4 linked regions of the Homo sapiens genome follow. The main gene of each other region encodes a partner of the protein of the gene in region 2 in a complex. Each region holds a gene or a part of one and is shown on either strand. Other genes may lie near its edges. A codon is read from its position in the direction of its gene.

Region 1 (6,934 bases), on a different chromosome or scaffold from region 2:
GTGGCCCAGCCCCTGCGTGTCTGTGACTGTCCACTTCCCTTCCCCCAGAGTCACAGGCAGGCCTACTGCCCACCTATTTCTGAAGACCCAGGTCCCCCGGTGTTGGGCAGGTTCTGAGCTGCCCTGCTCCACCCTGGCCGATCCATCACCTGATAGAGTCAACTGCCTGTCGGGGGCCCAGAGCAGCCCCAGCGGAAGATACTAGGCGTTTGGGTCATATCAGGCCACAGGAAGCGGGGCAGGGAAGGCTTCCTGAAGCAGAGGCCTGAGCCTCAGAAAAGAGAGAACAGGGAGAGCCTCGGAGAGACGAAAGTCATGGGGATGGGGGAACAGGAACAGCGGCTTGGGGGCAGAGGGCACAAGCAGAAGGCCACGGAAGCTCAGCAGACTCGGCAGGGCAAGCTCAGGTTCAACCCAGCAGCCCTTGGCTGGAGGCGTGACCTCAACCCCACCAAATGCCCAAAGTCCATTTTATAGATGAGGAAACTTAGGGCCCAGAGTCCTGTCACCCCAAATCACACTGCACACAGGGTCCCTGAAATCCACTTTTATTCATGTAAAAAAAATCCCCAAAGAATAGAGAAAAAAATGTGACTCCTACTTCCCGGAGCTCCAAGTCTCCAGCCAGCTCTCCCGGGGAAGGGAGGAGACGCTGCTAGCTCGAGGGTGTGGGTGTCACAGGGAGCAAAGCCCTGACCAAGGCCCTAACCTAAGACTGAGGGCAGGAAGGAGGGGCCCCAGGAGGATGAAGGGAGTTAGCTGAGGTACTTGCCCCGGGTTTAAAAAAATAAAATTTCTAGATAAAAAGTTAAAAAAAAAAAAAAAAAGCATTAGTGTCATTGCCTCCTGCCCTCCACCCAGCGCCCGCCCTGGCCCTGTGGCCACCTCGCTCAGCCAGTTCAGAGCTGCGTGTTCTCCTCCTGGCTCTCCGAGTCAGCGCCCGACAGGTGCCCGCTGCTCCCGGGTGCGTGACCGTTGCTGGCACAGGCCACCAGAGGCCCGTCCCCCAGCCCCTCCGGCATCTCGCCCAGCAGGCTCCGGCGGATCTCCTGGGGGAGCCTCGCCCGCTGCTCCTGACACTCCTGGGCCAGCTGGGCCAGCAGCTGTGGGAGAAGGATGGGCATCACAGGCGAGGCCTGGCTGCCTTGCACCCCGTCTGCCCACCTGTTCGCCCATGGCCTCACCTTGGGCTCCTCTTCTGCCAGCTGTTGCAGGACCTGCTGCTGCCCAGCCACAAGACGGTCATGCCGCTGCTTCTGGGCCTCCTCCAGCTACAGGGGTGGGCAAGGGCTCAGCTGAGGGGCCCTGAGGGAGGGGCTAGAGCCTCGAGGCTCTGGCTGGGTATAGAAGTCAGGTGGGCGAGGCCGGGTGCAGTGGCTCACATCTATAATCCCAGCACTTTGGGAGGCCAAGGCGGGCGGATCACCTGAGGTCAGGAGTTCGAGAACAGCCTGGCCAACATGGTGAAACCCCATCTCTACTAAAAATAAAAAAATTAGCCAGGCATGGTGGCGGATGCCTGTAATCCCAGCTACTCGGGAGGCTGAGGCAAGAGAATTGCTTGAACCCAAGAGGTTGCAGTGAGCCAAGATCGCGCCACTGCACTCCAGCCTGGGCGACAGAGTGAGACTCTGTCTCAAAGAAAAAGAAGTCAGGTGGGCGAAGGCTCCCAGGGCAATGTATCAGGGTTGTGAGAGGACTGGGCCCAAGGACGCCAAAGCCAGGGACACTGGTACAGACAGTTGGCTTTGGGTATGATGTGGGTACCCTGGGGCTGTTGGGCACTTGAGAAAGGCCCTAGAAGAACCTTGAGGGCAACGTGGCACCAGGCCAGGCATGGAGATGGGTGTCTGATGAGTGAAGGAAGGGAGGTGGGGTAGGGTGGCCCGGGAGCCTGACTCACCCGACGGATGGAGTTGACTGACTCAGTGATGTGCCGACGGTTAATCTCCGTCAGTTCCCTGCACGGGAGCAACGCAGGATGGCTCGGGGCCCAGACACCTGCCCTGCCTCCCCAGTACCCAGATGGCCCCCGGTCCCGGTGCCCTTACGCCTCCTTCTTATGCTTGTCCCTCATCTTGGCCTCCGAGATGCTGTTATGGCGCTTTCTGTCCAGGATCTTCTGCAGCTCCTTCTTCTCCCTGGAGAAGCCGGCAGGGGAAGAGGAGGGGTCAGCGGCAGAAGCACAGACTCTGCCCTCCTTCTGGTACTAGAAGTCCCCAGCCCTTCCCATAGACAATCCTCGGCTTTCACCTCTCGTTCATCTCTTTCAGCCTCTTGAACTGAGTTGTGTTTGCATCAAGGACGACCTCCCTGAGCCGCTGCAGAGCCTGTGGACACAGGGAGCTGACAGGTGATGCCGGGCTGACGACGGGTCTATCCAGCAGGCTTTCCCTGGCCACTGCAGGCCCCCTACCTGTCTCAGGTGTTCCAGCCTCCGCTGGGCCTCTGCGTCCACCTGGGCCTCCCGCAGCTCCAGCAGGCTCTGCACCTGTCTGTTCTGGAACTCCTGATACCGCTTTGCCTCGTCCTCCCCCTCCTTCGTGTCCTCCACATCAGCGGCCCCACCTCTGCGAGGAGAACCCCTCTGGGTGATGCCTGGGCCCGTCACATGGACTGGGATGGGGAGGGTGTGTAGGGGGGCACATCCTGGCAAGCGATGGCAGACACCATCCCATGGGGCCAGGTCTGTTATGCAAACCAGGAGGCCTGTTAGCTCCACCCAAGTGATGGGAGCCTGTTTGGGCAACATGCTCCTCATGGACTTCAAAAGAGATGTCACTCCCTGGGGGACACAGGGACGCCTGGTGTGGAAAGCCTCCTCCATCCTTGCACTGAACCCTCCTCCCTGGGGGTCAAGGAGCAGCTCTTGCCATCTCTCCATGCCCACCGACCCCCATGTTCACATCAGCACACCCAGCACACATAGCACACAGGCGGCCCAGACACTCACAGGGCACCTGGCCGCAGCCGGCACCTGCCCTCAGCCTGTGCCTGAGCCAGGCCATCCAGCAGGCGGCGGGTGAGGGTGACTGCCTTCCGCTGATGCTTCTTGCGCAGCTCCCGCAGGTCTCGCTCTTGCCGGCTCCGGAGCTTGACCAGAGCCTTGTGACCTCGGAGCTCATCCAGCGGGGTGGGGGCCACCTCTGGGAGCGGCAGAGCAAAGGTGGGCGGGGGGTGGGGGAACCTGCAAGGCAGCCCCCTGCCTCCAGGTACCCCGCCCCCTACCTGAGAGGATGCTGGCGATGAGATCATCACGCTGCCCTGGGGAGCAGAGGCCCTGTGAGGAGCTGGAGGACAGGGTGGGGGGTGCCTCCCTGCAGCCCACCCCCGACCCAGGCCACTCCTTACCTGGGCTGCTGAGGGAGGTGCTGGCAGGGGAGGTGGTGGGGCCAGGGGGCCGGCGGGGGGAGGCATCCAGTGGGCTGGGGGTGGGGTTTGAGGACGGCTGAGACCCCAGCTGCTGAGACTGGGTGTCCTGGCACGTCTCTTGGCCAGCCTGAGCCTATAGGGAGAAAGGAGAATGCTCTTTTCAGAAATGCTGTTCCCTCCAGACCCTTCTGTCCTCTACCACCTCCTGGGTCCCCTAGCACCCCTGTCAGCCTCCCTTAGTCCAAGCCACTGCTGGACTGCTCTGTAACAGGAGGCTGTCTGCATGAGAAGAGCTATAAATCAAGCCTTTCTAAACCCCTTTTCCACATGGGCTGTGGGGAAGATAACATAATGCCAGCCCACTGCATGTGCTCAGTAACTCCCAGATTGTTCTGGAAAGGCCTGGCCCAGCCCCAAGCCTCCTCTCCTCCCCTGCCTGTGTCCCCCAGCCTTGCCTACAGTCGCTCATTTTCCTTGCTGCTGAGCTCCTGATTAAATCAACAGAGGACTCAACCGCAGAGTGGGCACCAGCCTCTCCGCTAACAGCTCCAGGCAGCCCTAATTGCAGTCATCTCTCCCCGCCCGCCTGCCGCAGGCCCTGGGGGGACTGGATCTGGAAGCGCAGGTGAACCTCCGTGCCTGACCCCTCCCCACGGAAGCCACTGCCCTCCTCATGACTCCCAGGACACCACGTCTGAACAGCTTCTGTGGCTTCGCACTGCCCTGATGAAGTGGCTGAGACCCCTGTACCCCCACTCCAAGCCTACATGGAGCTGGAGGAATTCCAGCCCAGGTGTGACCTGAAGGCCTCCTGAATGCAAATGGGTGGTTTTCATCTCCTCAAAATCCCAGGGCTGCCAAGCCTACTGCGCTAGAGAGACCAGAAGCCCCCTCCTCATGTGGCCACAGCAGTCATGTCCAGCGGCCCCCTGGGTCACAGTGAGCCTGAGCCCTGCCCTGCCCCGGCTCACCTCACTCTCCCCAATGAGGGCGGCCAGCTGCCGGGCCCTCTGGTCCATCAGGCTGACGTGCTTAATGGGGTTGATCAGGGCCTCCGCATAGTCTGGGGGGAGGCAGAAGGCCAAGGTCTCAGAGACAGAGCCCCCAGGCCACCCCCACCCGCCACCTCTGGTCTCAATGAGGAATTCCAGAGCTTGTCCTCAGATCTGTTCCCTACTCAGTTCCCTACTCAGTCGGGGCCATCCAGCTCGGCCACTCCCAGGCCCTGGGGGTGGCCCTTGTCCCTCACACTCCCTGGCCAGGCAGGCCCCGCCCACCCCCAGCTCACCCTGGTGGTCGTCAGGAATGTAGTCCGAGGCTTCGGTGTAGATGAGCAGGGCCGGCAGGCACAGCGGTTGGTTGGCCTCGTTCCGCAGGCAGACGTAGTGGTATCCTGGGTGGTCAGGAAGGCAACGTTGGGTTGCTGGGCCAGGTGGGGGCCCTACCCACTGCCCGCTGTGCTGCCCAGAGCCCACCAAGGCCTCACCGGAGCGGATGGCAGAGACAGGCAGGATCCGGTGCCCTACGAATTTACCCCCCTCCTCAAAGGCTGCAATGCGAAGTGAAGCCAGCGTGGGCAGCACCACCTGTGGGCCAGACTGGAGCTGAGCCACAGGGCTGACCCTGGGCCACTGTGGCTACCAGGCCACAGCTAACCACAGCCATCAAAGCTTAACAAAGCAGACCTTCAGACGAGCTGACCTACTGACCATCAGTCACCATTGCCACTAAGCTGATGGCTGACCCCACTTCCATGTCCTGGCCTAATGGATGACTGCAGCCATCAGGACCCTGAGGCAAGATGACAGGCAGCCAGGCCCCTCCAGGGCCCCCACAGACAGTTCTGGTCATTGCCAGTTTAGAAACGGGAGTGAGTCATGAGCAGGAAACCAAGAACACACATGCCCAGGCTGGGAGCAGAGGCCGCGTCCATGCAGGGCCGTGCGGGGTGCTGAAGAGCGGATATGAGCTTGGGGTTGTGACCTCAGCTCCTGCCTCGGAGACAGGGTAGGCTGTGTCCACTCCTCGCAGGGGACACAAGACGTCTAGCTGACACCCCCCAACCCCCATCTCACCTTCTCACCCTGGTCTCTTACCCTAAGGAGGGCAGGGAGACTGACGCTCGGACAGGCAGGTCCTGGGGGACCCATGGCACCCCCCACTTTCTGATCCCCAGTCGCCAACGGTGTGCCTGGTTCCTGTTCTCCCACCTGAGAGTCGGGGCGGTCTGGGCTGGATCTGCCTGTGCCTGGGCGGGTGCAGGGGCCAGGCTCACCTTGGGGAAGTCGAAGGGCTCTTCGTCCCACACGGGGTTGAACGAGTTCCCCTGAGAGGTCCGGGTGCGGTACTTGCGCCGCGTATCAACAGGGAGGCCAAACATGTCCACCTCCACGTAGATGCCCACCTTCCTGTCGGACAGGAACTGCCCTGAGATCACCTGGGGGTGGGCCAAGGAGGGTGAGGCGGATGCTGAGAGTCCTGCCCCCAGGACACCCCTGGCCTGAGCCGCCCGCAAGCCCCACCTTGACCCGCAAGGCATTGGCCACGATGCCATCCACGATGACCTCAGTGAAGGGGTCGAAGGACTTGTCCGGCCGCCGCATGAACTCCGGCTTGAGCAGGTACCCGCTGCGCCCGTTGTACTCAAAAACGCCCGCGTTGAGCTGCATCGCCACATCTGGGGTGCCACGGGCACGTCGAGCAGGGGCAGGGATCAGGCAGGACGGTGCCATGTGGGGAATGGGAGATCATCAGGTCAGATGGCATCCAAGGTCCAGGGTCAGGGGCGGGCTCAAATGGCATCAGGGTCCGGATCCAGGACAGATCAGACAGGGGAGGGGTCTGGTATCAGCCAAGGGCAGGAGGCGGGGTGAGTCGGGAGCTGGGTTCCCCTGGGATCTGGGATGAGACAGGGTCAGAGGTCCATTCAGGCAAGACCAGCAGGATCGTGGGTCAGAAGTCAGTAAGACTGAGGGTCGGGGTCAAGATGGAGGGGGCCAGGGCTCACCGAGGGTCTGGAAGTTGAGCGCAACAAGCTGGCACCCTACGTTCCAGAAGAGCTGGGGCATGTAGTTGGAGGAGTCCACGCGGGTGCCCTTGGGGTAGATGCGGCTGAGCTGCTGCTTGTTGTATCTGAGATTGGTGGTCAGGGGCCACACAGGTGCCAGGGCCCACCCCATCAGCCTCCACCTCCGGCCTCAGCCAGGTGCTCCTGTGACCCCCACACCCGGCCTCTGTTTCTTAGCCTAGCCATGCCCCCTGAGACTGCCTGGATCTGCCCAAGCCCCAGGCCAGGGTGCAGGAGGGCCGCCGGAGGGCCAGCACCCTGTGCAGGTGGCATATGTGGGGACAGAACACCGGAGCCGGCCTCCGAGCGCCCCACCCTGGCCTGCCCGCCCACAGCACCTTCAAAGGATACTCCACAAACTCCATGGGGCTCTTGGTCAGTTGCTCCATGGCCTTGGTCTCCACAAAGGACGACATCTCGAAGCATTTGTTCCTCTCTTAGGGGTGAGCCAAGAAAGGGCGTCAGACCTGGCAGGGCTGAGCTGGGCAAGCTCCC
Region 2 (5,255 bases):
TCATCAGCTTAATTTAAGTTTGTAGTTTTTGCTGAAGGATTATATGTATTAATACTTACGGTTTTAAATGTGTTGCTTTGGATACACACATAGTTTCTTTTTTAATAGAATATACTGTCTTGTCTCACTTTGGACTGGGACAGTGGATGCCCATCTAAAAGTTAAGTGTCATTTCTTTTAGATGTTTACCTTCAGCCATAGCTTGATTGCTCAGAGAAATATGCAGAAGGCAGGATCAAAGACACACAGGAGTCCTTTCTTTTGAAATGCCACGTGCCATTGTCTTTCCTCCCTTCTTTGCTTCTTTTTCTTACCCTCTCTTTCAATTGCAGATGCCAAAAAAGATGCCAACAGACACTACATTACCCTAATGGCTGCTACCCAGAACCTTTTTATAGGTTGTTCTTAATTTTTTTGTTGTTGTTGTTCAAGCTTTTCCTTTCTTTTTTTTCTTGGTGTTTGGGCCACGATTTTAAAATGACTTTTATTATGGGTATGTGTTGCCAAAGCTGGCTTTTTGTCAAATAAAATGAATACGAACTTAAAAAATAAAAGCTGGTATCTTAAAATGTAAGAGAGTAAGACTGTGAAGCCTAAAATGACTGGCTGAGAATGAACCAGAAATGCCATTTGCCAAACAGTTGTAACTAGAAATTTGATTCTCACGGTCCATTCTTTTCTTTGTCCTTAAGATGACATTGTTAGTGTTCACGTCCCATGTTCAGTGTCCAAACCGGCAATGTAAAAAGTATCCTGTGTGGTTTAACAGGAAATCTGTTTATGTCTCTTTATTTGAAACCAGTTTTACTCTCAGTGGTTCTTTAAGTTCAATGAAGTCTGCCAGGAACATTGGTTGGTAGTATTATTCCGACACCTTTAATTTCCAAAATCTGAAGTTCCTGCTAGTTTACCACCTTCATGATCTTCTTGAACTGGTAACTGATTAGGTTGAACTTATGGAAGATTTGTGGACTTAACTCAAAAGTAACCTCTCAGTGTTCTATAGAACATGTATTTGTGTAACTGAACCTACCAGGAGAAATGTTTGGAATTCTATATGTGCAATTTTTCAACAAATGCAAAAAAAATACAGCACATGTATTGACAAGCTTCTGTCAAGCAGCTTGAGTTGAAATTTGATTTAAGAAAATAAATCATGATTGTTCAAAGCTGCTGGGACGTTAGAATTAGGCCATGATACTGGTCTCATTTTAACTACAGTGGTATTTGGCACTAGTGTAAACTTCCATATAAATCACTCTTTTGGAACAACAAAGGGGGAGGGAGAAAAATCACGGCCTGTTAAATGAGTACCAAAGCCGCCCAACAGTAATGAGATGTTCTCATCCTTGATTCTCCCAGCCTCAAACAACACAGCTTACTTTTTTTTTCCCTTGCTCAGAAAGTACCTGTAATTTAACAAACAGACTGCCTGTAGGTATAGTGCAATTACAAATGCTCTAATCATTGTACATACATCTCTCTTGATATTGCAGCATCCATACTGGCTTTGTAATCATTAATTTTTTGGCAGATTGAATGTGCTGTATTGATATGTATCTATGTAATTGTATTGTATGTCTATAGCTAATTCACGTTTTGAATAATGTTATTTTATTTACTTTTTTAAGAGAGGAGAATGTAAATTTGTCAGTTTATTTCTGACTAGGGATATTTTCTTTCCATTTAGAAAAGAAGAAAAAAAAAAAACCTTACTGTCATACAGAGCGGTACTAGCGTCGTGCTGTATAAAATCATTTGCACATTCCTGAGTAGAGGTATACTGATTATAAGACCCAAAGGTAATTTCATAGCAAAATACATAAAATCAGTCGGAGCTTTTATACAAACATGGAAACCAACTTTGTAGAACTTTTGCCATTTGATCTAGGATTGGAATATGAGCTTTTATACAATTCATATTCTTATTTGGCAAATGCACAGTTTAGTATTACCTCTCTGATGGCCTTTACTAGAAAGGCAGTTTTAGAAGCTATTGTGATCCACTAAGGAAATGTTTTAACAGCTAGAGACCACTGCTTGCCTGAAAGGGCGTTCTTAAATTTGGTGCAGCAAAAAAAAAAAAAAAAAAAAAAAAAATTAAACAACAACATTTGAAGGCCTACAGTGTGTATAGAGAAAACCTCATCACAAGATCATAAGTGTTACAGTTTTAGGGAATCAAGATATTCTATTTAATAGAGCTATAGTAAATGTAGTCAATTAAACCTGATCTCAAAGCTTGAAGAAGCTGAGCAAAACAGGGAAAGATTGTTATATTTGTCTTTATGAAATTGGGATGGAATTTGCTATGCAGAATTGAGGTTTGTGGCTTCGCTGTTCCTGTAGGGTGCATGACAAGATCCCTTCTCTTGAGAAAGGAAAAAATTGATCACCCTAGCAGCAGTGATGCATAGAAACCTAATTTTAGCCACACCAGTCAATCGAAGCTAAAGGATTTTCTTTTTTGTTTCTTCGGGGTTTTATTGAAGGGGCTAGGGGCGGGACGGGATTCTTTTCAGTTTTGTATAAAAACAAAGTTTACTCATGCTTTATATTATATTGTGATTGCAAGCGTTATAAGCGTGTGCCACTGGCCTCCTATTGTTGATGCTTAGGTAATGGAGGCCTGTGGTGAGTTTTATGGTGACTTGGGCATGTCTTATTCAAAAACAAAAACATAAAACACAGAAACCTTTCTTCAGCATACCAAGGCAAGCAGCCATTTCATGACTCACTTAACACATTGCAGTGTACCAGTTTACAGATGATTTTTCCCTTTTTGCGTGACATGGCAGTTCTAACCCCCAGAGAATTCCTTATTTGTAAATTGGAAGTTTCTACTATGCCTTACAGAGCTTAAATTCAGAAGTTTGTGCCTCATATCTGAAACAAAGGGAAATAACACACCCATTCAAAAGTAAATAAATCTCCTAGAAGTTTTTGTTTTTAACATTTCCATATAAAGAGCTCTGTTGAATGTCATGAATAGACTGGAAAAAAAAATTTTAAGAACCTGCATATGTTGTTTACTAGCAGATGACAACTACAAAAGGAATCTGAAGAACACGTAAAACTTGTATTTTTTTTTTTTTGGTAGATTAACTAGCAGGCCTATTTTAAAAAGGTAATTCAGCTAAAGGGCAATTTACTTTTTTGTACTTCAGACTATCTTGATTGTCAAAGTGTACGAACTGTAATTTTAAAATTTATACTGCCACATGATTGTAAATTTTAGTTGTCTTAAGTTAGGAATTGGTGAAAAGCTATTTATGCTGGATTTGGGTCAAAATGACTTATTTGCAAAAAAATAAATAATGGGAAGAAAGGGCTGTATAATGAAATACTGCAAGACTCACATATTGGTTGGAAATTTCCCTCAAATCACCTACCGATTACCCTTGATTTCCCTTTGTTTTCAGTTTCTCAAAACGAATGAAATGAAATATAGCAGAATGTTAACCCATATAAAAATAAAGTGTACCCAAATATTGTAATGTATATTGCTGCTCTTCTTCAAATTAAATAAGGGTTTAAAACCACTTAATTGGTAATCAACATCTCAATTGATACAAATAAGGTGTGCTTGGTATACATTAATATTTTCTTCCAAAGATATATCTTTGGTTAGAAACACAAAAAAATAAAACTAGTAATATTGTATGTTTATCTATCTCTACATATTTCCAGCATATGTAGCGTTAATAGATCTGTCCTGGTAACTGTGTCTTTGGGATTTCATTTTGGTTCCATCAAATTAGGAAAAGAAATGGCTTAGTTGTATATGATTAGCTAGAGATTTTTGGAGCCAGACACCTGCTGTTTAGTAGATAACTTAGTACAGACCCTAAACTTGTCATTTGTTTTTCTCACAGAATAGCCATTTCCTGCTGTCTTCCCAATGATCACTGCCCTTTCAATAACACTCTTGCCTCTAGAATCATATGTTCAAAGTATGAATACACACCTAGCACATAGTAGGTGCTCAAATATTAATTTCCTCCTTGCCTTCCTTATCTACCCTGTGTCCTCCATTTCCCCGTATGATTCCAACCCAATATAGCAAATGACATTTACATGTTATGAAAACATCTATTGGGTAAAATCAGATCTTGGATAAAGAAATTCTGACTTTTATATAAGCTTTTGGTAGACAGAAAAAACAGAAAGGTATTCGTTGGTAGAACATTTTTAAGTTCAGGAAAGAAAGCTGGAATAATACTACGTAACTTTGTCCAGGTTACTTTGACTGAAACACGTTTTTGGTGGATTTCTTTTCCTCAAAGAACTCTCTAAATGCAACTCCTTGCTGGATTCCTCACCCATCATCCTGTTGGAAACCCTTACTAGACCTATGTATTTAGGGAGTTTTGTCAGAAAACATTTTTAACTTGCAGTATTTAAAAGAATATTTACTGTTCCTAAAATGTCATTCAAATGCATGTACTGTCTATTGTTTGGGGATGGGAACTAGTTTTGCAAAAAACACCTAATGTTGTATAATAATGCCCCAATGATCTTGCTGGTTAAAAATACAGTATTTTTGGCCATAATTTTGTACTATAGTATTCTTCATTGTTGAGTTTTGCTTCCATTAAAGTTGCCCGAGCCCCTCTCAGAATGTTTTGTATTAGTAGGAGTACTGAAATACATCTTTCCTTCCTTAACACACCTTGTGCATATTGCATTTTCCAAAATAAACAAGTTTAATGGTTTCAAAAAAAAAAAAACACCAAAAAACCTTTTCCCTTCTGTGTATAATCAGAAATAAGAGTCTCCTGTAGTGGAAATACACATATTGGTAGCATTTATCAAATTTGCTCTTTGAAAAAACTTGCCTTAATTTAGGTTATAATTAACTGGTTAAAAAAAAAAGTAAATACCTATCCAATAAAGAAAGGAGCCAGCAATCTTCAACCTGAGGCAGTCTCCCAATCAGTAAAAAGAATCCACACATCTGCCCTGGTTTACTGGGTAGCACACTGGACTCAGGCCAATGGCTGGCTTAAGAGTTTTGCCCATTTCAACACTGGCAGTGAATAGGTAGACTCCACATGGGAAAAATGACATGTCACAGGTGTCCTCTCTGAGTTTTAGAAACACATCCAGGCTTTTGAGGTCAGCTAAAAATCAGCTGCTCCTGGGAGTTTTATTAAGTGGAGGTGATGGTGGCAAGTGGCTTTCTGGAAAATAGGTACTTTTGTGGGGACTTTAAGCCACAGCAAAAGCAAAACCTGTTCCTGTTACTCCAACTG
Region 3 (2,830 bases), on a different chromosome or scaffold from region 2:
TTTTGTTGTAGCTACTAAAAGTGCTTCCATTTGGCAGAATCTTGGCCAGGTTTTGACACTGGGGAAGAGAGTACAGCAAAAAATCCCTACTCTTTAATTAACTGTATTCATTCTGTATACCTGTCATGGTCTGATCTCTGGTGTTTCAAACACACATTGAATAAACTTAGTCTTATTATACAGTGCTTCCTCTTTTATCTTTTCATCAAAATTTAATAAGCATCCATTAATATAGTACCTTAACAGTGGCACCACTTTGGGATAATGTGATCAGGAATCATGATATGTCATGGATATGCCATTTTCCATCCCCATTCACAGTTATTGCAACATTGGAATGTAGGTAGAGGATGAAAACTCAGAAAGAATATGCACAGCCACGCTGAACCTCAGAGGCTGGGCTTTCTGGCAAGGGGTTGTGCACAGCAGTGTGCAACAGTGGGAGAGACCCGACAGAAGGATACTGCAAAATCCTATGCCTCCTCACCTGCCCCAGAAGAATCCAGAAAGGAAGTTCAGGAGGAAGCCAAACAATTTATTATTTCTTGAACAGTTTGGGTAAGGAAGGAGAGGGCAGGGCCACGGTCCTTAACTGGAAAGGGATGAAGAACCTTTTCAGTGCAGAACAGCCTGTTGGTCAGAGGTATGAGATTAGGCCTGATGGTATTTTCAGTGCTGATTGGGAAGGGTCACTGTGAGGTCAAACTAGGAGCATCCCAGAATCAGTCCTGTGCCAGGCTCCATAGTCTCTAAAACAATCAGTGCCATTAATCTATGTGTGTGAGAGGCAGGTCAGCCCTTGTCAGAGTTCCCACTGTGTAGAAATAGTTCACTGCTAGGGACGCTGTGTCTCTCCAAGGTCAGTGTCATGTTTCTATGGGCCAGGCTCAGTCCCATATCAGAGGCATGCCTCCTTTCCCATGTACTGCTCCATTCTTATTCCTCTTGTGTCAGGTAAGCTACCTTTTCCTGTGCGTTGGGGTTAGTCCATGCTTTGGGTGTTGGTTTCCTGTGTCAGTTGTGGTTTGTGTTTCGTATGTCTGGAAGGGTCAGTGCATGTCATTTGCCCTGCCTCAACCCCCACGGCCCCTCTACTCCTCAGCCAGGGCCCAGTGTGCTGATGGTGGTGTAGCTAAGCCTGGACAGCGAAGCAATGGAGGGAGTGGGAGGGTCCTCATCGGGAAGAGCCCTGGGGCGAGCTCGTGGAGGCCGGGGGCAGCAGCGAGCGCAAGTTTCCAGGCAGGCCTGGCGAAAGCGACGGTGCATGAAGCAGTAGACCAGGGGGTTGACACAGGCCGAGGCGTAGCTCAGCAAGTGAATGAAGGAGATAGGAGCACCCGAGAGTGCTCGGTGTGCACCCGGGCCATCAAAGGCGCGCCACGTGTTGGCACTATAAACTGGCAACCAACACAGAAAAAAAAGCACAACGATCACCAGCAACATTCGCACCACGCGCTTCTTAGCCAGCAGCTTGGCCTGGGTGGGCCGGGAGCCGGATCCCGGCCCAGGAGCCGTCAGCGCCGTCAGCTCCAGGGCAGGCCGGGAACGTGGAAGTTGCACGTAGCAGCCATCGCTGTCTTCGCCAACCGCGCCAGTCTCAGGCCGGCAACGCCCGTTCTGGTGAACAGCCCCTGAGCACAAAGGGTGGGCGGTCAGAGAAAAAGGCGAGTCCCCCCAGTCTCCAGCCCAGTCCCCACCTGACCTCCGCTCCCAGCTCAACTCCATTTCCAGCTTCCTTCTCACCCTCACCTTCATTTCAGTCCCACCCACTCCAGCAGGCCCCGTCGCCCTCCAAAGCTCCGCCTCGCCCAGATTTTGCTCACGTGGTCCAGCCCCACCTGGCAGCCCGCCTTGGTTTCGGACCCTGCTTTGGCTGTCGCTGTCACTGTCGCCGTCAAAGCGAAGCCCTAAGTAGAGCTCGCGAGAGATAAGCCCGTAGGCCACGGCCATAACCACACCCGGGATGAAGAACAAGAGCAGAAGCAGCAGTACGGACCTGAAGGCAACACAGACAGATCACTCGGGTTTCTGTCCAGCTGTAATCACAGATGGAGAAAAAGCCAAGGACTAGTGTTTCTAGGGCTGTGGCCAGGTACCTGAAGTAGGAGTAGGATTTGGGGGTGCCGCTGGGAAGGGAGAGAGAACTGGGGAGGGGCCCCAAACTGGAACTCCAGGGTGGTGGATGCAGAATAGGAGTTGGCGTGGTAATTCTCCGGGAAGCTGGAGGAAGATTCTGGGCAATGGTCGTAAGCATCTAATAGGGGTGAGAAAGGAATTCCTAGGATAGTTTATGGGCAAGCTCACCAGGTCTGGCGGACCCGCGCACTGGGCCAGCGATGCACGCACTGCAGCACACGAGGCCCCACTGGTTGCACGACAGTGTACACGGGGTAGGGCACCATGAGTAGTCCGGACAGCAGCCACGTGGCTACAATCACGCGAGCCGCGTGGGAGCGCGTCTGCCACACTCGTGCCTGCAGTGGTCGGCAGATGGCGCTGTACCGCTCCAGTGCGATGGCCACGAGGCTTAGCGTGGACACACTCACAGACACCCCTAAACAAGGGAAGAGAAAGGAAGGAGTCACCTAGGAAACTTGCACTACACAAGCATCAGTGGGACTTCCTCACACCCCTCCCTGCCAACCGGGGAAGACCCCTACATCCACAAGAGCTTTAGGCGGGGAGAGTGGCAAGTGGGGGTGGGGTGGTTGTCTCACCCACCCATGAGGTAGGAAACCGCCTTGCAGATGACGGTGCCAAAGATGAATGTGCCCATGAGATTGGGCAGGAGGGTGAAGGGCATGCAAGCCACAGCCAGCAGGAGGTCGCT
Region 4 (7,040 bases), on a different chromosome or scaffold from region 2:
AGCAATTCTCCTGCCTCAGCTTCCCAAGGAGCTGGGATTACAGGTGCACACCACTACATCCAGCTAATTTTTGTATTTTTAGTAGAGATGGGGTTTCACCATGTTGGTCAAGCTGGTCTCGAACTCCTGATCTCAAGTGATCTGCCCACCTGAGCCTCCCAAAGTGCTGGAATTACAGGCATGAGCCACTGCACCCGGCCTAAAATAACATTTATAAGACAATTAGAAATTTGAACACAAAGCCAGGCACGGTTGTTCATGCCTATAATCCCAGTGCTTTGCGAGGCTGACGTGGAAGGATTGCTCGAGGCCAAGAGTTTGAGACCAGCCTGGCCAACATAGCAAGACCGTGTCTCTACAAAAAATTAAAAAAAAAAAAAATTAGCCAGGCATGGTGGCGCACACCTGTAGTCCTGGATACTTGGAAAGTTGAAACAGGAAGATCACTTGAGACCAGGAGTTCAATGATTCAGTGAGATTGTGCCACTGCACTCCACTCTGGGTGACAGAGTGAGGCCCCTGTCTCTATATTAAAAAAAAAAAAAAAAGAAAGAAATTTGAATACTGACTGAATATTTGATTATATTAAAAATTAATGTTAGTAGATACTATAATGGCATTATGTTTATATTTGAAAAAGAAATCCCTCATACTTTATTAATACATTCTAAAATACTTTAGGATGAAATTATATCTGAGATTTATTTCACAACCACAGGAATTGAAACTCTCAGACACTGCTGGTAGGAATACGAACTGGTGCACGGCTGGGCAGAGTAGCTCACACCTCTAATCCCAGCACTATTGGAGGCCGAGGTGGGTGGATCACCTGAGGTCAGGAGTTCGAGACCAGCCTGGCCAACATGGTGAAACCCCATCTCTACTAAAAATACAAAAATTAGTCAGGTGTGGTGGCATACACCTATAATCCCAGCAACTTGGGAGGGTGAGACAGGAGAATCATTTGAACCGGGAGGCACAGGTTGCAATGAGCCAAGATCACGCCATTGCACTCCAGCCTGGGCGACAGAGTGAAACCATGTCTATTTAAAATAAATAAAATAAAATAAAATAAAAGGTACAGTTATTGTGGGAAATTATCTGGCAGTTCCTCAAATGGTTAAAGAGTTCCTATATGGCTGGACGCAGTGGCTCACGCCTGTAATCCCAGCAATTTGGGAGGCTGAGGCAGGCAGATCACGAGGTCGGGGTTTTGAGCCCACCTGGCTAACATGGTGAAACCCCATCTCTATTAAAAATACAAAAATTAGCTGGGTGTGGTGGCACACGCCTATAGTCCCAGCTACTCGGGAAGCTGAGACAGGAGAATCATTTGAACTTGGGAGGCGGAGGTTGCAGTGAGCCTAGACTGTGCCATTGCACTCTGGGCAACAGAGCATGACTCCGTCTCAAAAAAAAAAAAAAAAAAAAAAGTTACTATATGACCCAGTAGCTCCACTCCCAGGTATGCAGGAGTCCACACAAAAACCTGTACACAAATGTTCATAGCAGCATTATTTGTTTTTGTTTTTTTTTTGAGACGGAGTCTCGCTGTCGCCCAGGCTGGAGTGCAGTGGCGCGATCTCGGCTCACCGCAAGCTCCGCCTCCCGGGTTCATGCCATTCTCCTGCCTCAGCCTCCCCAGTAGCTGGGACTACAGGCGCCTGCCACCACGCCTGGCTAATTTTTTTTTTTTTTTTTTTTTTTTGTATTTTTAGTAGAGATGGGGTTTCACAGTGTTAGCCAGGATGGTCTCGATCTCCTGACCTTGTGATCCGCCCACCTCGGCCTCCCAAAGTGCTGGGATTACAGGCGTGAGCCACCACGCCCAGCCATAGCAGCATTATAATATAGCACTGTGCCCAGCCCACAGTCAACAAGTGGGCTGGGCACAGTGGTGCTCACCTGTAATCCTATCACTTTGGGAGGATGAGATGGGAGAAGTGCTTGAGGCCAGGAATTTGAGACAAGCCTGGGCAACAGAGCAGAACCCCATCTCTACAAACATTTTACAAAATTAGCCAGGCATAGTGGTGCACACTTGTAGTCCCACTACTAGGAAGGCTGAGGCAGGAGGACAGCTTGAACCTAGGAGGTCAGAGATTACACCACTGCACTCCAGCCTGGGCAACAGAGCAGGACCCTGTCTCAAAAAAAGGAAAAAAAAGTGGAAACAATCCAAATGTCCATCAACAATTGAAAAGAAATAAAAAGCAGTATATCCATACAATGGAATATTATTTGGCTGTTTTCAAAAATCAAGTACTTGGGAGGCTGAGGCAGGCAGATCACCTGAGGTCAGGAGCTCAAGACCAGCCTGGCCAACATGGTGAAACCCAGTCTCTACTAAAAATACAAAAATTAGCCAGAGGTGGTGGTGTGGGCCCACAGTCCCAACTACTCAGGAGGCTGAGGCAGGAGAATCACTTGAAACTAGAGGCAAAGGTTGCAGAGATTGCACCACTGCACTCCAGCCTGGGTGACAGAGCAAGACTCTGTCTCAAAAAAAAAAAAAAGTACTGATACATAGATACATGGATGAATCTCCAAAAGATTATGCTAAGTGAAAGAAGCCAGTCACAGAGGACAACACATTATCCCATTTCTATCAAATGTCTACAATAGGCAAATCCATAAATAGAAAGTAGATTAGTGTTTGCCAAGGGCTAAGACCAGAAGATTGGTGAATGACAGCTAAACTGTTTCTTCCAGGGTAATAAAAATGTTCTAAAATTGTGGTAATGGTTGAATAATTCTATGAACATCCTAAAAGCCACTAAATTGTACAGTTTAAAGGGGTGAATTGTATGGTGTGCAAATTATCTGATATGGAATTCTTGGTAAAGCTGTTAAAAAAAAAACACAGGCTTGGCATCATAGGAAAGGGAAAAAAACAGAAAAGAAATAACAGGGAAGAGGAGTGGGAGGTGAGTTTGGGAATAGATGAAACAAGATTAGCCAACAGTTAATAATTATTGAAGTTGAGTGGTGGATACACTTAATTCACTATAATAGTATATTTCTATAAGATTAAAATTCTCCATAAAAATAAGCATGTACCAAGTCAGGAAAGCTCACATAAAGAGTGCTCAAAATCTGTTTTAAATAAGAATGCTAAAATAAAGACCAAAAAAGGAGCAAGGAATGGCAATATAACAATTTTTTTTTAAAAAGGAACTTTTTCTTAGAATATTTCAACACATAACCTTTAATGGTCTCCATCAAAACTATTGTTGATATTAACTGTTCTATAACACTGGTAAATGTCAAGATGCTACTCGAAGGTCCCTGAAGCCCTTGCCCAGTGCATTTGCTCTGACTCTGTACAGGGTCCTTACCACTCACCAAAACTCACAGAGCTTGTCTAGAGAACCGATGCTATCCCAGCTCCCAATTGTCAACCAGGTAAAATCATTTCTATTTCACAGAGTTGAGGAGAGACTAAATGCACAAATGAAGTTTAAACACAAATAAAGTGCCTGGCTACAATTACATTCCCATTTCTAGGGCTGTAATAAACAATTATTGCCCAAGTGTGTGAAAATACACACTCACAGATGCTCAAGGCAGCATCCCCCCACTCAGTTACAGACAAACAGCTCCTTATTTCTATTCCTAACTTAGCATGTCCCTGACGTAGTCCCTACTACTAAGGGTAGACAATATAGTAGCCAATAATATTGAAATGGAAAGACAGCCACAATATACAGTCAATTGAAAAAAGAAACTGGCCAGGCATGGTGGCTCACACCTGTAATCCCAGCACTTTGGGAGGCCGAGGCGGGTGGATCCTGAGATCAAGAGATCGAGACCATCCTGACCAACATGGTGAAACCCAATCTCTACTAAAAAATACAAAAATTAGCTAAGTGTAGTGCACGCGCCTGTAGTCCCAGCTACTCCAGAGGCTGAGGCAGGAGAATCGCTTGAACCCAGAAGGCAGAGGTTGCAGTGAGCCGAGATCATGCCACTGCACTTCAGCCTGGCAACAGAGTGAGACTCTGTCTCAAAAAAAAAAAAAAAAAAAAATTATAATGTACAATTTGCAAAATCTGAAGTCTAGAAGGATATCCACCAAACAATAAAAAGTGGCTGGCTCTGTGGAGTAGAATAGCTGGGGACAAGAGAACTTTTCTTTTTATTTTACACCTCTCTATATTATTTGAATTTTGTATCTCAAAGGAATATAAATTGATATAATATTTTTGGTGGGTAATTTGGCAAAACATATCAAAATTTTAAATGTATTTGCCATATGACCTAGCAATTTACTTCTAGGAATTTGCCCTGCACCTACCAGCTAAAGTGCACAAAGCTATTTTATGTACTAGAATATTCACTGGAACATTGTTTAGCATGGTAAAACAATGTTAATTTCAACATCTATCAAAAAGGGGAGTAGTTCAGGCCCTGGCAGGGTGGCTCACGCCTGTAAACCCAGCACTTTGGGAGGCTAAGGCGGGCGGATCATGAGATCGGGAGTTTGAGATCAGCGTGGCCAACATGGTGAAACCCCGTCTCTACTAAAAATACAAAAATTAGCTGGGTGTGGTGGCGGGCACCTGTAATCCCAGCTACTTGGGAGGCTGAACCTGGGAGGCTTGAACCTGGGAGGCGGAGGTTGCAGTGAGCTGAGATCACACCACTGCACTCCAGCCTGGGTGACAGAGCAAGACTTCATCTGGGGTTCGGGGATGGGCGGGAAGAGGGGAGTAGTTCAGGCCAGGCATAGTGGCAACCTAGCCATAGCCCCAGCTACTTGGGAGCTCCGTCTAAAAAAAAAATTAGCTGGGGGTGAGCTATGATCCTGCCACTGCACTCCAGCTTGGGTGACAGCCAGACCCAGTCTCTTTAAAAAAAAAAGGGGGGGGGGGTGTGGTGGGGAGGACTAGTTCAATTACCCCCCTATAAAAGTTTGTACAGGGTCGGCGCAGTGGCTCACGCCTGTAATCCCAGCACTTTGGGAGGCCGAGGCAGGTGGGTCACGAGGTCAGGAGACCGAGACCATCCTGGCTAACACGGTTAAACCCTGTCTCTACTAAAAATACAAAAAATTAGCCGGGCATGGTGGCGGGCGTCTGTAGTCCCAGCTGCTTGGGAGGCTGTGGCAGGAGAATGGCATGAACCCGGGAGGCAGAGCTTACAGCGAGCTGAGATAGCGCCCCTTCACTCCAGCCTGGGCGACACGGCAAGACTCCGTCTCAAAAAAAAAAAAAAAAAGTTTGTACAGATTTCTATAAACTGACTATGAATCGATTAGGTAAAAAAGATAAATAAATCATAGCACAGTATGTACAGTACGGTATGCTCCTTCTATTCCTATAAATCATTTGTGCATAGAGAAGTTGAGCTGATGGCCAGGAATAGTGACTCACACCTATAATCCCAGCACTTTGGGAGGCCAAGGCGGGCGGATCACTTGAGGTCAGGAATTCAAGACCAGCCTGGCCAACATGGCAAAATTCTGGCTTTACTAAAAATGCAAAAATTAGCTGGAGGTGTTGGCGCGCATCTGTAATCCCATCTACTTGAGAGGCTGAGGCAGGAGAATCACTTCAACCTGGAAAGCGCAGGTTGCAGTGAGCTGAGATCACATCACTGCACTCCAGCCCTCCAGCCTGGGCGACACAGCGAGACTCCATCTCAAAAAAAAAAAAAAAAAACCAACCAACCAAACAAACAAAACCCGAGAAGTTGTGCTGAGATTGGAGACCAGAAAGAATGAGAGATTTTCACTTTTTTTTAGACCCTTCTGATTTACACAATTTTGGGAAAATCTGCGTGTAAAACTTTTTTTTTTTTTTGAGACTGAGTCTCACTCTGTTGCCCCGGCTGGAGTGCAGAGGCACGATCTCGGCTCACTGCAAGCTCGACCTCCCGGGTTCACGCCATTCTCCTGCCTCAGCCTCCCAAGCAGCTGGGACTACAGGCGCCCGCCACCATGCCCGGCTAATTTTTTGTATTTTTAGTAGAGACAGGGTTTCACCATGTTAGCCAGGATGGTCTTGATCTCCTGACCTTGTGATCCACCCGCCTTGACTTCCAAAGTGCTGGGATTACAGGCGTGAGCCACCACGCTTGGCCTAAAACTTTTAATTTAATTTTTATTTTAAGTATACTCCTCTTGTGGCCCAACCTCCCCATCAAACCAAGTGTAAAACAAGCACTTTACTTGCATTAGTTCTCTTCCTTTCACCCTCTCTTCTCTATGATCCCCTCACCCCAAATGTCCTTTTTTGCTCCCAATCTTTGGGAGCACAGACTGAAAAATAAAGGTTTCAATTGTGGGGTGCCCCTCCCTAGCTAAACTTTTAGTACATTTTCAGAAGTGTTCTTTCAGAATGAACTGTTTTCTTCAACACTTGCCAAGCTAATAAAACCATAAGAAAGTCAAATACAGATTTACTAAAACATCATCTATCAAGGTTATTTAGTAACTACAAAGCAAGCAAAAGGATCAAATTTAAAGTCCTATCTTCCAGTTCATTGCAGTGTTCTGTCATATTACAAAACTTTGGCCAGGCACGGTGGCTCATGCCTATAATCCCAGCACTTTGGGAGGCTGAGGCAGGTGGATCACTTGAGGTCAGGAGTTCAAGATCAGCCTGGCCAACGTGGCGAAACCCCGTTTATACCAAAAACACAAAAATTAGTTGGATGTGGTGGTGTGCGCCTGTAGTCCCAGCTACTCCAGAGGCTGAGGCATGAGAATCACTTAAACCTGGGAGGCAGAGGTTGCAGTGAGCCGAGATCGTGCCACTGCACTACAGCCTGGGCAACAGAGTGAGATTCTATCTCAGGGGGAAAAAAAAAATGGAAATACCACATGTCTATCAACAAAGGACTAATTTTAAAATTGATGCATCCTTCTGTAACATTTTGGAGTCATTAAAAATGTTTTATATGTATTGACATGATACTGATGTGCTTATATAATCCCATACTTGCACAAACATATTTTCTGTATTTGTGAATACATATTTTGTGCATGGATGTAATAAAGAGTGGGAAAATATATAAGCCGAAATATTAGCGGTGGC

What was found.
Region 1: the proteins of GNAQ (region 2) and PLCB3 are in contact, whole or in part, in a cryo-EM structure (PDB 8UQO), measured with the Homo sapiens proteins. Residues at the interface, in NP_002063.2 of Homo sapiens: Pro185, Thr186, Thr187, Ile189, Glu191, Pro193, Arg202, Gln209, Arg210, Ser211, Glu212, Arg213, Arg214, Lys215, Trp216, Ile217, His218, Val240, Glu241, Glu245, Glu249, Glu250, Ala253, Leu254, Arg256, Thr257, Ile258, Thr260, Tyr261; in NP_000923.1 of Homo sapiens: Pro257, Arg258, Leu259, Asn260, Glu261, Val262, Leu263, Arg707 (codon at 5,969), Asp709 (codon at 5,963), Lys710 (codon at 5,960), Ile719 (codon at 5,933), Asp721 (codon at 5,927), Gly722 (codon at 5,924), Ile723 (codon at 5,921), Val724 (codon at 5,918), Ala725 (codon at 5,915), Ser845 (codon at 4,688), Asp846 (codon at 4,685), Tyr847 (codon at 4,682), Ile848 (codon at 4,679), Pro849 (codon at 4,676), His852 (codon at 4,667), Tyr855 (codon at 4,433), Ala856 (codon at 4,430), Ala858 (codon at 4,424), Leu859 (codon at 4,421), Ile860 (codon at 4,418), Asn861 (codon at 4,415), Pro862 (codon at 4,412), Ile863 (codon at 4,409).
Region 3: the proteins of GNAQ (region 2) and CCKBR are in contact, whole or in part, in a cryo-EM structure (PDB 7F8W), measured with the Homo sapiens proteins. Residues at the interface, in NP_002063.2 of Homo sapiens: Arg30, Arg34, Asp35, Arg37, Arg38, Leu40, Ser198, Val199, Phe341, Lys345, Asp346, Ile348, Leu349, Gln350, Asn352, Leu353, Lys354, Glu355, Tyr356, Asn357, Leu358, Val359; in NP_795344.1 of Homo sapiens: Thr87, Val88, Thr89, Asn90, Glu151 (codon at 2,507), Arg152 (codon at 2,504), Ala155 (codon at 2,495), Ile156 (codon at 2,492), Pro159 (codon at 2,483), Leu160 (codon at 2,480), Ala162 (codon at 2,474), Arg163 (codon at 2,471), Val164 (codon at 2,468), Trp165 (codon at 2,465), Gln166 (codon at 2,462), Thr167 (codon at 2,459), Ile241 (codon at 1,929), Leu245 (codon at 1,917), Gly248 (codon at 1,908), Leu249 (codon at 1,905), Val331 (codon at 1,452), Leu335 (codon at 1,440), His394 (codon at 1,263), Arg396 (codon at 1,257), Phe397 (codon at 1,254).
Region 4: the proteins of GNAQ (region 2) and F2RL1 are in contact, whole or in part, in a cryo-EM structure (PDB 9D0A), measured with the Homo sapiens proteins. Residues at the interface, in NP_002063.2 of Homo sapiens: Arg37, Ile323, Tyr325, Asp346, Ile348, Leu349, Gln350, Asn352, Leu353, Glu355, Tyr356, Asn357, Leu358, Val359; in NP_005233.4 of Homo sapiens: His108, Pro109, Ala110, Met114, Gln172, Arg173, Val176, Ile177, Pro180, Met181, Gly182, His183, Ser184, Arg185, Met265, Met268, Leu269, Met274, Asp275, Asn277, Lys280, Lys281, Arg284, Ala285, Leu288, Ile289, Tyr344, Tyr345, Val347, Ser348.

The regions. Positions count from the first base shown.
Region 1 is NC_000011.10:64,261,522-64,268,455, reverse strand, and holds the end of PLCB3 (1-phosphatidylinositol 4,5-bisphosphate phosphodiesterase beta-3), read right to left. Parts: intron 6,876-6,934; coding exon 6,791-6,875; intron 6,505-6,790; coding exon 6,380-6,504; intron 6,271-6,379; coding exon of another isoform or gene 6,197-6,270; exon of another isoform or gene 6,090-6,196; intron 6,050-6,089; coding exon 5,895-6,049; intron 5,810-5,894; coding exon 5,648-5,809; intron 4,959-5,647; coding exon 4,859-4,958; intron 4,766-4,858; coding exon 4,661-4,765; intron 4,436-4,660; coding exon 4,344-4,435; intron 3,506-4,343; coding exon 3,352-3,505; intron 3,265-3,351; coding exon 3,229-3,264; intron 3,147-3,228; coding exon 2,954-3,146; intron 2,571-2,953; coding exon 2,417-2,570; intron 2,331-2,416; coding exon 2,254-2,330; intron 2,142-2,253; coding exon 2,052-2,141; intron 1,962-2,051; coding exon 1,904-1,961; intron 1,272-1,903; coding exon 1,185-1,271; intron 1,104-1,184; coding exon 900-1,103; 3' UTR 533-899; downstream 1-532. UniProt on the Homo sapiens protein: Catalyzes the production of the second messenger molecules diacylglycerol (DAG) and inositol 1,4,5-trisphosphate (IP3).
Region 2 is NC_000009.12:77,715,572-77,720,826, reverse strand, and holds the end of GNAQ (guanine nucleotide-binding protein G(q) subunit alpha), read left to right. Parts: 3' UTR 1-4,730; downstream 4,731-5,255.
Region 3 is NC_000011.10:6,269,812-6,272,641, reverse strand, and holds the end of CCKBR (gastrin/cholecystokinin type B receptor), read right to left. Parts: coding exon 2,722-2,830; intron 2,555-2,721; coding exon 2,305-2,554; intron 1,997-2,304; coding exon 1,839-1,996; coding exon of another isoform or gene 1,632-1,838; coding exon 1,099-1,631; 3' UTR 515-1,098; downstream 1-514. UniProt on the Homo sapiens protein: Receptor for gastrin and cholecystokinin. The CCK-B receptors occur throughout the central nervous system where they modulate anxiety, analgesia, arousal, and neuroleptic activity.
Region 4 is NC_000005.10:76,821,994-76,829,033, reverse strand, and holds part of F2RL1 (proteinase-activated receptor 2 preproprotein), read right to left. Parts: intron 1-7,040. UniProt on the Homo sapiens protein: Receptor for trypsin and trypsin-like enzymes coupled to G proteins.